2 separate regions of the Homo sapiens genome follow, and region 2 is linked to region 1. The links come from fine-mapping of genetic effects on gene expression. A gene starts in region 1. The other region holds a variant in brackets. All regions are shown on one strand. Distances are between the middles of the regions.

The links.
Region 2: its variant is fine-mapped to the expression of BOC in tibial artery (GTEx, PIP 0.98).

What each region holds. Positions count from the first base shown.
Region 1 is chr3:113,209,361-113,214,732 of GRCh38, forward strand. It overlaps BOC (BOC cell adhesion associated, oncogene regulated), which reads left to right and starts at 2,197. Exons shown (of 20, transcript NM_001378074.1): 1 at 2,197-2,656. LOC124909486 reads right to left here. Exons shown (of 2, transcript XM_047449436.1): 2 at 1-2,920. The coding sequence ends at 2,195. RefSeq lists an enhancer at 2,558-3,209.
Region 2 is chr3:113,244,430-113,249,801 of GRCh38, forward strand. BOC (BOC cell adhesion associated, oncogene regulated) reads left to right here. Exons shown (of 20, transcript NM_001378074.1): 3 at 5,293-5,372. Among named protein-coding and RNA genes, the nearest start is that of BOC, 36 kb to the left of the region's middle. The variant T/C (reference allele first, on the strand shown) is at 3,140.

The DNA of each region.
Region 1 (5,372 bases):
GAGAAGGAGTGTTATCACTGCAGAGGAAGCTGGTTGACCCATTCCCTTGGGGGAATTAAAAGTTCTGTACCCAGGGTGGACCCCAGGCCTTGTAGTCCAGAATTGTGCCTTGGAAGGAGGACAAAAGAAAGTGGAAGCTAATATAGTCAATGACTGGAAAGAAAAATAGGTCTTTGAGAATGTTGGGGGAGATTGTTAGAGATTAAAAGGGAAGGAAAATTAGGATGATTAAGTAGGAAAAGGAAATGTAGGTGGATAATGCACAGAGAGAGTTCAGAGTCCTTTTCACCTTCTTGCTGAAAATGCATCATCCTCCAGATCCATTTTGCCAGAGGAACATGCCTAAGAATCCAGGCACAGAGCTGAAAGTACTCGATAAATCAAAAAGGAAATTGGCTTCTGCCTGAATGACTAAATACCGGAGAAAAAATAGTGCAAAATATGGAATAAAATACATTTATGTTTCCTTTGTAAAGGTCTTTTGGTTCAGATTCAATTAGAGTCCTATACTCAGTGTAAAGTATGTATGTTTACTGACAAGAAACAAGTTAATAAAAAACAAAACAGGGCCGGGTGAGGTGGCTCACGCCTGTAATTTTAGCACTTTGGGAGGCCAAGGTGGGCAGATCACTTGAGGCTAGGTGTTCAAGACCAGCCTGGACAACATGGTGAAACTCCGTCTCTACTAAAAATACAAAAATTAGCCGCGCATGGTGGCAGGTGCTTGTAATCCCAGCTGCTTGGGAGGCTGACACTGGAGAATCTCTCGAATTCAGGAGGCAGACTTTGCAGTGAGCCGAGATTGCACCACTACACTCTAGCCTGGGCGACAGAGTGAGACTCTGTCAAAAAACAAACAAACAAACAAACACACACACACACACACACACACACACACACACACACACACACACACACAAAACCCCCAGAGGCCCAGAAAAGTTAAGTGACTTTCCAAAGTCACAGTGGCTTCCTGACTCCCAGTGCAGCTGTCCAGCCACACAGGGAAGGCAGCACCCCCATTCACCCTACTACTAGCCTGGCTGTCTTATTTCCAGGACAGCTTCCTCACCAGCTTGGCACAAACTCCCAGTTCACTTTAAACAAATGGCTTAGCCCTGCTGGGACTTGGTTTTCTCAGCTGCAATGAAGATACGGAATGGATGACCGCTCACAACCTGTGCTTCATTCCTAAAAAATAAGAAGGGAATCCAATTTGCCACCAACTCAACATTTGCCTTCTCACTGCCCTGGAAAGGTAGTTTTTAAAACGTGGCCCCTGACCTGCAGCATCAGCATCACCTGGGAACCTATTTGAAATGCAAATTCCCAGGTCCACCTACTGAATCAGAAACTCTGGAGGTGGGGCCCAGCAAAGGGATTTAGCAAGCCTTCCAGGGAGTCCTGCTGCAGATCAAGTTTGAGAACCACAGCTCTGAAAGTTTTCTGACCAACACACACGCGCGCGTGCGCGTACACATACACACGCATAGGTAACTAACTTTTCCGTGGCCACTAGCACCCCCAACCCATGCCCCCAACCCCAGCCCCAGCTCTCCCTCCCCATTCCTCCCTGGCTCCATCCTGGGATGATGAATGGAGGTCAGGGCGCTGTCAATGGACGACGCGGCAAACCCTCCCCAACCGACCGAGGGGGTCGGGGGAGGCTGCGTTAAGGCTTCCCTGAGATTGGTTTCCTTATCATTTTCTCCACCGCCGCTGTCCCATTTTCTGATGAGTTTGCTTTTAATGATTTATCCAACAGTTTGTCTTGCAGAAGAAGAAGACCATTGAGAGGTGGGTGTCAGGAAAGTCTTGGAAGAGACTAGGCGAAAGGAGGGAAGGATTGTACATGGAAGAGCAAGGGTGCGAGGTGAAGCTAAAGAGAAAGTGAAGGCTTCAGGGGAGCCCCCTGGGTTCGGGGAAAAGGGAGAAGATGGTGCTTTTGGTATGGGAAAGCAAAAGAAGTTGGAGGAGAGCGCGGGTCTGAGGCACAGCAAAAAGTGGGTGTTAACGGGAAAACTGCCCTAGAGTTTGGGGGACTTTTTCCAGCTTCCTTTCCAAGACTTTTTCTTTGCTCCATTTTGCTCCTCCCCCTCCTCCCAGCCTCCTCCACTCCCTCCTCCTCCTCCTCCTCGCACGGTAATGGGAGGCTCCTAGGCAGGAGAAGCAAAAGAAGGAATTGTTTGCGAGTTCAGTCATCCAAAAAGCTTCTTCCATATGGAGGGACCGGGTGCGCTGGGCGCGGCGTCCCCTGCGTTGTCCTCCTGCTGCCGCCCCCGCGGCCGCCGCTTTCTGCCGCGGGGACCCTGAGCCCCGGCCCGCCGGTGTCAGCCGCCGCGCGCGCGCACAGACACACACACAGAGACACACAAACACACACAGAAAAGACACACACGCGCACACACGGCGCGCACACCCTCACGCCCGCCACAGCCACAACACGCCCGCACGCGCCCTCCCTCTCCGGCCCGCAACTTCTCGGTCCTCGGCTCCTTTGTTGCTCCAGCCGCGGCCGCTCGCCCGTGTTGTGTGTCCCCGGTGTCACCGAGCGTGTTGTGTGTCCGTGCGGCGCGGCGCTGTGTGGCTCCCTCGCGCCCACCACGCTGGCCCCCGGGCCCCGGCTCGCCCTTCCCAGGCGCCGGCTGCAGCAGAGGTGAGTCACGTCGCTGAAGTTTGTTTTCTTTTCATAAAAAGTTGTGTTTACTGTTGGTTCGGGGAGAGGAGGGGGCGGGAGGCGGCCGCAGGCCGAGGCAGCGCCAGCGAGTGGCTGCCGGGGGACGTGCCGGCGGCGGGAGCCGGGTCCCAGCGCTCGGCCGGGCGCCCGGGGCTGGGAGCTGCGGCCGAGGCTGGGCGCGCCGGGCGCCGGGCGAAGAAGTTGGGGCGAGGCGGGCAGCGGGGGTCCCGGGGGCTGCAGCCGCTACGGGGCCCAGGGGCGCCGCATCTCGTTCCCTGCCGCAGCGGTCTGGCCGGGCGATGGTGGTTTCGCCTCAGCGGTTCCCAGAAGCTTCTCGGGTGGAAGAAGGATCCAGCCAGCCTCCCAAACTTCCACCGAAGGTTGACACCAGCGCCCCGGCCCCATGCTCCAGGCCGTGGGGGGAACCCGAGGCGTGGCGGCAAATGCGTAGAGTCACTCAACACGCACTCGGCCTCTTTGGAGGGTGAGGGTTTCTCATAGTTGGCGTCTTCTAAAGGAAAAACACTAAAATGAGGAACTCAGCGGACCGGGAGCGACGCAGCTTGAGGGAAGCATCCCTAGCTGTTGGCGCAGAGGGGCGAGGCTGAAGCCGAGTGGCCCGAGGTGTCTGAGGGGCTGGGGCAAAGGTGAAAGAGGTGTGTGTGTGTGTGAGAGAGAGAGTTCGTGTGTGCGTGTACGTGTGTGCGCGCGCGTGTGTGCGTGTTCGCGCCAGCAGCGTCCTCCTGGGGTTTTTGTTGATGTAACTGTGAGAAGGTGTGGGAAATGAATCTCTGGAACCAGTGGGACGGGGCTGTGGGGAGGGCAGGGAACCCAGGAAGAATTTTCATGGGGGTGTTGAAGGGCCTGCTTGACTTTCAGGATGTTCAGTATTAATTTGCTTTTCCAGGTGATGGGAGAATGCTGAGGGATGAGAGAGGCAGGCAGACCTGAAGGAGTTAATGGAGCCTCGGGGATTTGTTTGGCAGAGTTTTGTTTTGGGGATGGGGGTGGCAGTGCCAGAGTTGCTTGGAACAGAGTTGTGCTCCTCCAGAGATGTGGCAGTAGAGCTAAGAATACCGAAACCACACACCAGCAATCCCAAACTGGCACTTTTTGGGTGTGGTGGGGTGTTCTGCTGCTCCCCTCATCCCTTCTCTGCAAGTTCAAATGGGTTCGCCTAAGTTTTTGACCCAGAGTTACCTCTTTGAGTGGACTGAGTGAAGATTATATTTTGATTTCAGGCCCTTGTGCCACCTGCAGATGCACTGTGCCCAGCACACATTTGTCACCTAGTTCTTTGTTGTCCAGAACTCGGTACACATTGACCATTGGATGAATGTCATTTTAAAACTTCAGTGTGCAGACATTTCTGATTTATTCCACGACTGGGTCTTAAACAGGCAGCCCAGCTCTGTGATGGTTTTTTTCATCCCTTTGGTTACAGCCAATAAATCAATCTTCGTTTTCTTAAGGGCAGCATGGAAAATATTAAACCACAGTCTTGGGCTGCTTGTGGGGGCTAGGATGCCCATACATCTGGGTGACCTGTTTTCTGAACTTAAAGTAAATCTGAGGCAAGAGGTTAGCCATTTTGAGGTGTGTAACAGGTTTCCCAGAAACATTTCTGAGGTCTTATAATTGGTACTTTTTAATGGTCTCATAATTGAGACCCAGAAGCTTCTCGTGGTGATCTGAAAGCACCTTGGGGTCAGTGGGACAGAGGCCGGGCAGAAACAGCAGTAGAGTTATTATTTTCCTGCTATGAGTTTTTCAAATGAGTTTATGCAAAGAGGTAAAATGAAAGAAAGAAGAGTTGCCTCATTGGGCCACTTTGCTGACACTGTCCTCCCCTGTATAGATTTGTCACTCAGAATTTGGGCCTTGAGGAGGCTGGAGGGTGTCTACACATTTATGAAGCCTGAGGATTGAGACCTCAGACACTGTCTCTTTTATCCTCTATCGAGATACTTCAGAAATGCTTCACTGCAAGAGACATTCGCTAGGGAGCAGTTGTCCCCCACGCCATAGGCCACTGGCTTTACTTGGGAAAAGAGGTTGCTAGAAGCCAGAATGGTTGATTCTTTGACTACAACTGGAGAGGGAGGGTGTGGGGAAAAAATAGAGAGGACTCTGCTTAGCTGTTAATTGGTGAGCCAACTCTTGGTAAGCTGTGTGATTTATGTTCCTTTCCACCCTCCAAATGGGTCCAGAGATTTTCCCTTTTTTTGAAGTGCTTTTTCAAGTGTTTGGGATCCCGGCTCTCTTCAACAACATGGTTTCCATGCCCTAAGAATGAATAAGAGATTTTACCCATGAAATAATTCAGTTGACTTTCACATGGACCCCCCACGGTTTGAAAAAGGAGAGCAAGAAGTGAGCCTGATGTGTCATAGTGTTCCGTGTCCCCTAGGGGGTCTGGGTTCAAATTTCGGCAAAGCCACTGATGTGGGTAATGAATTAGGGTTTATCTCTGTGTCTTTCAAACTACAACAGAAAACTCAGGTGCACCAAATAATTGCTATCCAATACCTTGTGGCCTCTGAATAAGAAAATATTAACTTGGCACCAAAAGATATTATATATTTGGAAGTTGCTTTCTTTCCTCCAAACTCTAAGCCCTCTTGCTGTCTGGGAAAATATGGGACAGGAGAAAAGAATCGAAATTTGAGAGGGAGAGGAAAGAAAATAATATGTT
Region 2 (5,372 bases), 35 kb after region 1:
AAAAACATCAAACCGTTGTTTTTTTTCTCCCCTATTTGACATCAGAGTGTTCTGGGTAGATGTTCCAGATATTAGTCTAGAACTGTGCTGTCTAATGTGGCAACCACTAGCTCTGTATGGTTATTTAAGTTAAATTTAAAGAAAATTAAAACTTCAGTGTCTTAGTCACATTAGCCACATTTTGAGAACTTCATAGCCCTGAGTGGCTAGTAGCTATCTAGTGCTTTAGACAGCACAAATATAGAATATTTCCATCATTGCAGAAAATTCTACGGAAGGGGCTTATGCAATGAACAGTAGGAGATTTTTATAGATTAGAATGTATGATGAAAGGATAAAAATGATCACACAGAAAGTTACTGTTATAGATAATGATCCAGGTAACATTATTCTTATGTATAAGGAAGTAAATTCAGAAACATTCTAAAATTGGCTTTGAAACCGTTTCTAGCCAGTTGATTAAAGTGGCTCCAGAAACAATTTGCTAGGAGGTAGTGTTAAGATAGTAAAAGGAGCACTGGACTAGGAGTGAGAAGACCTGACTTGTAGCCCAAAGTCTCCCTTCTGAATTAGCTGGGAGACCTTCTACAAATCACTTAGACTCATTCAGCCTTGACACATTATTCATAACACTCAAAACACATTAGGCATTACTCTACGATACTTGTTTATTTTCTCTGAGGTCCCTCCGAATTAAAAAAAATTTTAATTAAAAAAATTTTTTAAATTAGGTCTGTGTGTCAAATACAACTTTTTAAGTAAAAATGACCTTTGTTTTTTGTATATATTTAAAGGTATACAACCTGATGTTTTGATAAGCTTTCTTTCTCTTTTTTTAGAGACAGAGTCTTGCTCTGTTGCCCAGGCTGGAATGCAGTGCAGTGCCTGTCATAGCTCACTACAACCTCAAATTCCTGGGCTGAAGTGATCCTCCTACCTCAGCCTCCTCAGTAAACCTTTCTTTCTTAATTCCTTCTCCTAAGTCTATCTAAACTCACATATTCAGCCCTCTGAAAATTAAATTCACTTATTTCCCCAATATTTGCTTCAATGCCTCTCTTCTGTGCAGGAGTACTACCCTCTTTCTTGAGATAGGGGGCTGCCAACACTTGCACCCCAGACACTTGGCATCACCTTCTAGGAGCAAAGCTTTCCCTGCCTTTAAGACAATTGGGAAAGGTGATTCTTACTCTAGAAAACTGGGAGCATGCAAAATGAAAAGTAACTTGGAGCAGGATTTTTTTCTTTTTCATGTAGCTAGTCCCTCTCTACCAATGGAACAAAAGACTTTGTCAGATCGTATTCTTGCCACTTGAAGAATGTTTTTAAGAAAGTCTCTTTGTGCTATCTGCTACATCACACTCTCTCCTATTCAGCTCACCTTTGTTATTGGTCTTAGGACATCCAAAGGGCATGTTTTGTGTTTTAGATCATAGAAGCTTCCCTTTCTGACAGCTGCCGTGGCATGGGCGTCCAGGGGATGAGCCGACGGCTTTTTGTGGTGTTCTCACTCTTGATCCAGTTAGTCAGCCAGCCCTCTTGGGAGGAAGTGGAGCTGGCCTCCTCCTGATGATGATCGACTCTCAGTTGTTTGTAATTTTCTCAAAAAATAAATACTCTGAGGCTACAGTTTCTCAGGATTGGTCTTAACCCCAGAGTGTGTTTTGTTGTTGTTGTTTTTGGAAAGTTTCAAAAACATCTGTTTGGAAGAGATTATTTCAGTGGAGAACATGTGTGTCAGCAGTTAAATGTTTCAGACCCATTTTCTTTCTTTTTTTGTGTGTGTCCAAATAACCCTTTAAACTGTCAAGTACCTAGGCCTCAATGAGGTGTCAAATGATTTTGATATTTTTTTCTTGATTTCTCTGCTTTGTCTCAGAAAATGACTAAGGAAAATAAGAAGGATCTTAGATATATTTTGCATTGCCAAGAAAAATAATAGGCCTTACTGTTGCCTTCACCCAACTTTGAAATTGTACTTTGTTCATTTCACAATGGGACAACGTTACACTGCAATTAGGTTCTCCAGCTTAAGCGTTACTTGCCTTTTTTCCCGAAACATTAAAATAAAGTTCTCAGGTAACTGAAATCTCTAGAATTATCTTTCTAAACCAAACTCACTAGGTAACTTGGTTCAAAAAGTAACTCACTTTCCCCAGATACTAAATAAAATGCATCATTTTATGTATTTATAATTTTATTTATTTATTTATAATCATCATCCAGTGACCAAGCCCCCCAACCTTCCCCAAACATAGCCATATTTTTTGGTCATAGTTCTGCTTTTACATGAATGAGACCCCACGCATCCTGTTTTGGGGTCCTTAAAATGGTACTTCTTACAACTGTGTTGTGGGGCTTAATGGGTTAACTCCTTTCTCCCTCTCTGGATACCTGCACCTTCTCACTCCCTCTCACTCCCAATTCTTTTCTCCTTGTTGTTTTTGAAAGCAGGATGGTGGCTGGCAGCAGCAACAGGATCTGTTTCCATTTTGAACCTTATAAATTACCGAGGGTGCAGAAGTAACAGGAATTGTTTGGCTGGTCCTCGTTAAGCAGGAGAGGGTCTGGGCTGAATTTCCTCAGTAAAATATTTGTTGCTGTTACAACCCAACACCTCCGTAGCCACCGTGTGTTCAGATAAGAAACAACCCTTCCATTCCTCTTTGTCTGCTTGTCCTCTTTTGCCCTTCATTACTTTATGTTCATTTTCTGTCTCCCTACCTCCCTTCTTCCCTTTCTTCCTCCCTCCCTTCCTTCCCTTCTTGGGGCATGGAAGGAACATTTGCTTTCAATTTCCTTAAGGGCCTGGGGAAATTGGGGCATGACTTGAACAAGCTAGTTCCCTAAAATCCCATAACTGGGAACTCATGCAATGATCTATATAAATACCTTATCTCATTGGGGAAAAGCAAATTAGAGAATTAAAGCAAGTATCTGGAAAATTGAGAGGAAACCAAAAGCTTACTTTTTGGTGTAAACTTTCCCTCTAGAAATCACTGTTAAAATGTCCCACTGTTCTACATCAACTCTGTTTGCTAAACACCCACTGGTTTCAGAGCCCTGATAGGAAAAAAAAAAAAAAAAAGGGAAAAAGGCTACTATTGTGATTAAAAAGCACAGAGTTTGGGAATCAGCC[T/C]AAACTGGGTTTCAATCCAGGCCTACTGTTATGTGATCCTGGGCAACTTCACTTCTGGAACTCAATTTTCTCTCCTGTAAAATGGGGATATAGTCGTCACCTTGCAGGGTTGATGAGAAGGTTAAAGGAAATACATTGTGTAAGAGCTTAGCGAGTTCCTGGAGTAGTGGCAGGCACCCCCAGCTTTCCACCACCACAGCCCCTCCCAATTGTACTCACATCCTTTGCAGCTTTCATGAATTTTACTTTGCCAATAATATGACCCTTTGATTTACTGGATTGTTTGAAAAAGAGCAAAAGCTCTCTCTCTACACCAACGGGAAATTATCTTAACTTGCCAGGAAATAACTTTTGAAAAACTTCTTTAAAAATGTTCTTTCAAATCCCTTTTAGAAAACATCCCCTTGTCCTATCCCAGAGTAGTGCTGAAGTCTTGTGAGTCCTCTGATGTCAAAGTCATGAGGCAAAGGGAGAAAATACAAACCATCGGGAAAGAACTCTTGGAAAACATTCTGAGCATCCACAGAATGCTAGGGGCTGGGGTCCTCCATCTGGTTTGGAGGGGTGCTCATTGGGCAGTGTGGATATGGCCCTCCTCACTCCCTCTGCAGCCAGGCAGAAAGCCAAAGGACCACAGGTCTTGGGGAAGGGAAAGGTTTAGGTTAATCCGAAGCACTTCCCAACACAGCAACAGTCCCCTGTGTCAGGCAAGTCGGGTGTCTCCTGTTTCTTACGGCAGTCTCTGCAGGCAGCCTGAACTCTAGGACTGGCCAGCACAACACATCTCTCAGTTGAGAAGCTTAACTACTTCTGAGTTTTAAATGGTGACTGTAAATCTTCGAGAGAGTCTCTGGTTAGGTAGATTGATCTAGAAGAGTTAACATTTTGAATGTATGTCACACTCCTAGAAATATACTATTAATATTGCCACAGGTGAATGATCCACCGTGCAGATCACTGGAATGTTGCCTTCAACGTTATCCGAACTCATTTCAATGCCTCCCTGCCTAATAAGGCTGTTGATACCCCATCCTTATTTGTTAATGTTCTATAAACCCATCAGTGAAAAGCACAGAAGCAAAATCTTTGTTTTGGCTGTGACAGAAGTGTGTGTGTGTGTTAGAATATACACTTGCCCATGTGATTTTGATAAATCTTGTAAGGACCATAGCTTAAGAAAGGCATAAAAAATTGTGCCTTCTGGAACAGGAGATGCTACTGTTCTAGGCAGAGAGGGTGACTGATAGCTGAGGTGTGTTGTCAGATGGCTGGAGGTGCAGTGTGGTCTGAGCCTCAAAGCAATGTTGTTCTGGGTGGAGATACAACTTGGGTAATCAAGAGTGTAGATTTTGTAGAGACGGAAAAGTTCAAAATTTTCTAGCACCGGGAGCAGAGAGAAGTGGGAGCTAGTGAGTGAAGCGAAAACAAGGCTCTGTGCCCTGAGAAAGTGAGGGGTCTTGGCTGGCTTATGACTTTGGGCTGTGTTTGTACCTGTGGGAGTAGATGTTATGGACAAGCTGAGGAGAGCAGGGTGATTGCAGGAATAAAAGGGAGTTTTCAGGGATCTAGGCATAGAGCTGGGGTGAGGAAAATCAGAGCAGGAAATATTTCATGAGTCACTGAGATGCTAGGATTCATTCACTTAGTAGCATTCCCTGCAAGGGCGTTCTGTATGCATCACACACACGGCACTGCTGTCCCACAATAGTCTGCACTAACCACATGGCAGGGCACATGGCTGTGACCAGCTGGCCTTTTGCAAGCAAATGGTAAGAATAATCTCATCTGTTCTAGCATCTGTGCCAGATAGTCACTGTCCTGTGCCATGGATATGGCTGCAGGCCTCAGCCTCTCTGTATCCTCTGCCCCTCCTCCTCGTTGCTGTCCATCCACTGGGCAAGACTCCAGCATTCTTACTACAATAAAATCACCTTCTAGCTAGAGAAAGAGCCCTAGGGGGCAACTTATAAGAAGCTTCTTTTAGATGAGAAATGGCACTATAGTGTTCTTTGGTCTTCCAGCAGCATGACCGGGTCTCTAGTTTGAATGTTGCCAACAGGGAACAAGGGACAAAGCCAAGCCCTGTGGCCACCACAGGTGCACCCCAGGCATCCTCATCATGGCCATTGCTCTCCCTTTCTCTCTTACAACAGAGTGTTGCCAGGGACGGCAGTATCTCTTTGTGTGACCCTGGCGGCTTATGGGACGTTGGCTTCAGACCTTTGTGATACAC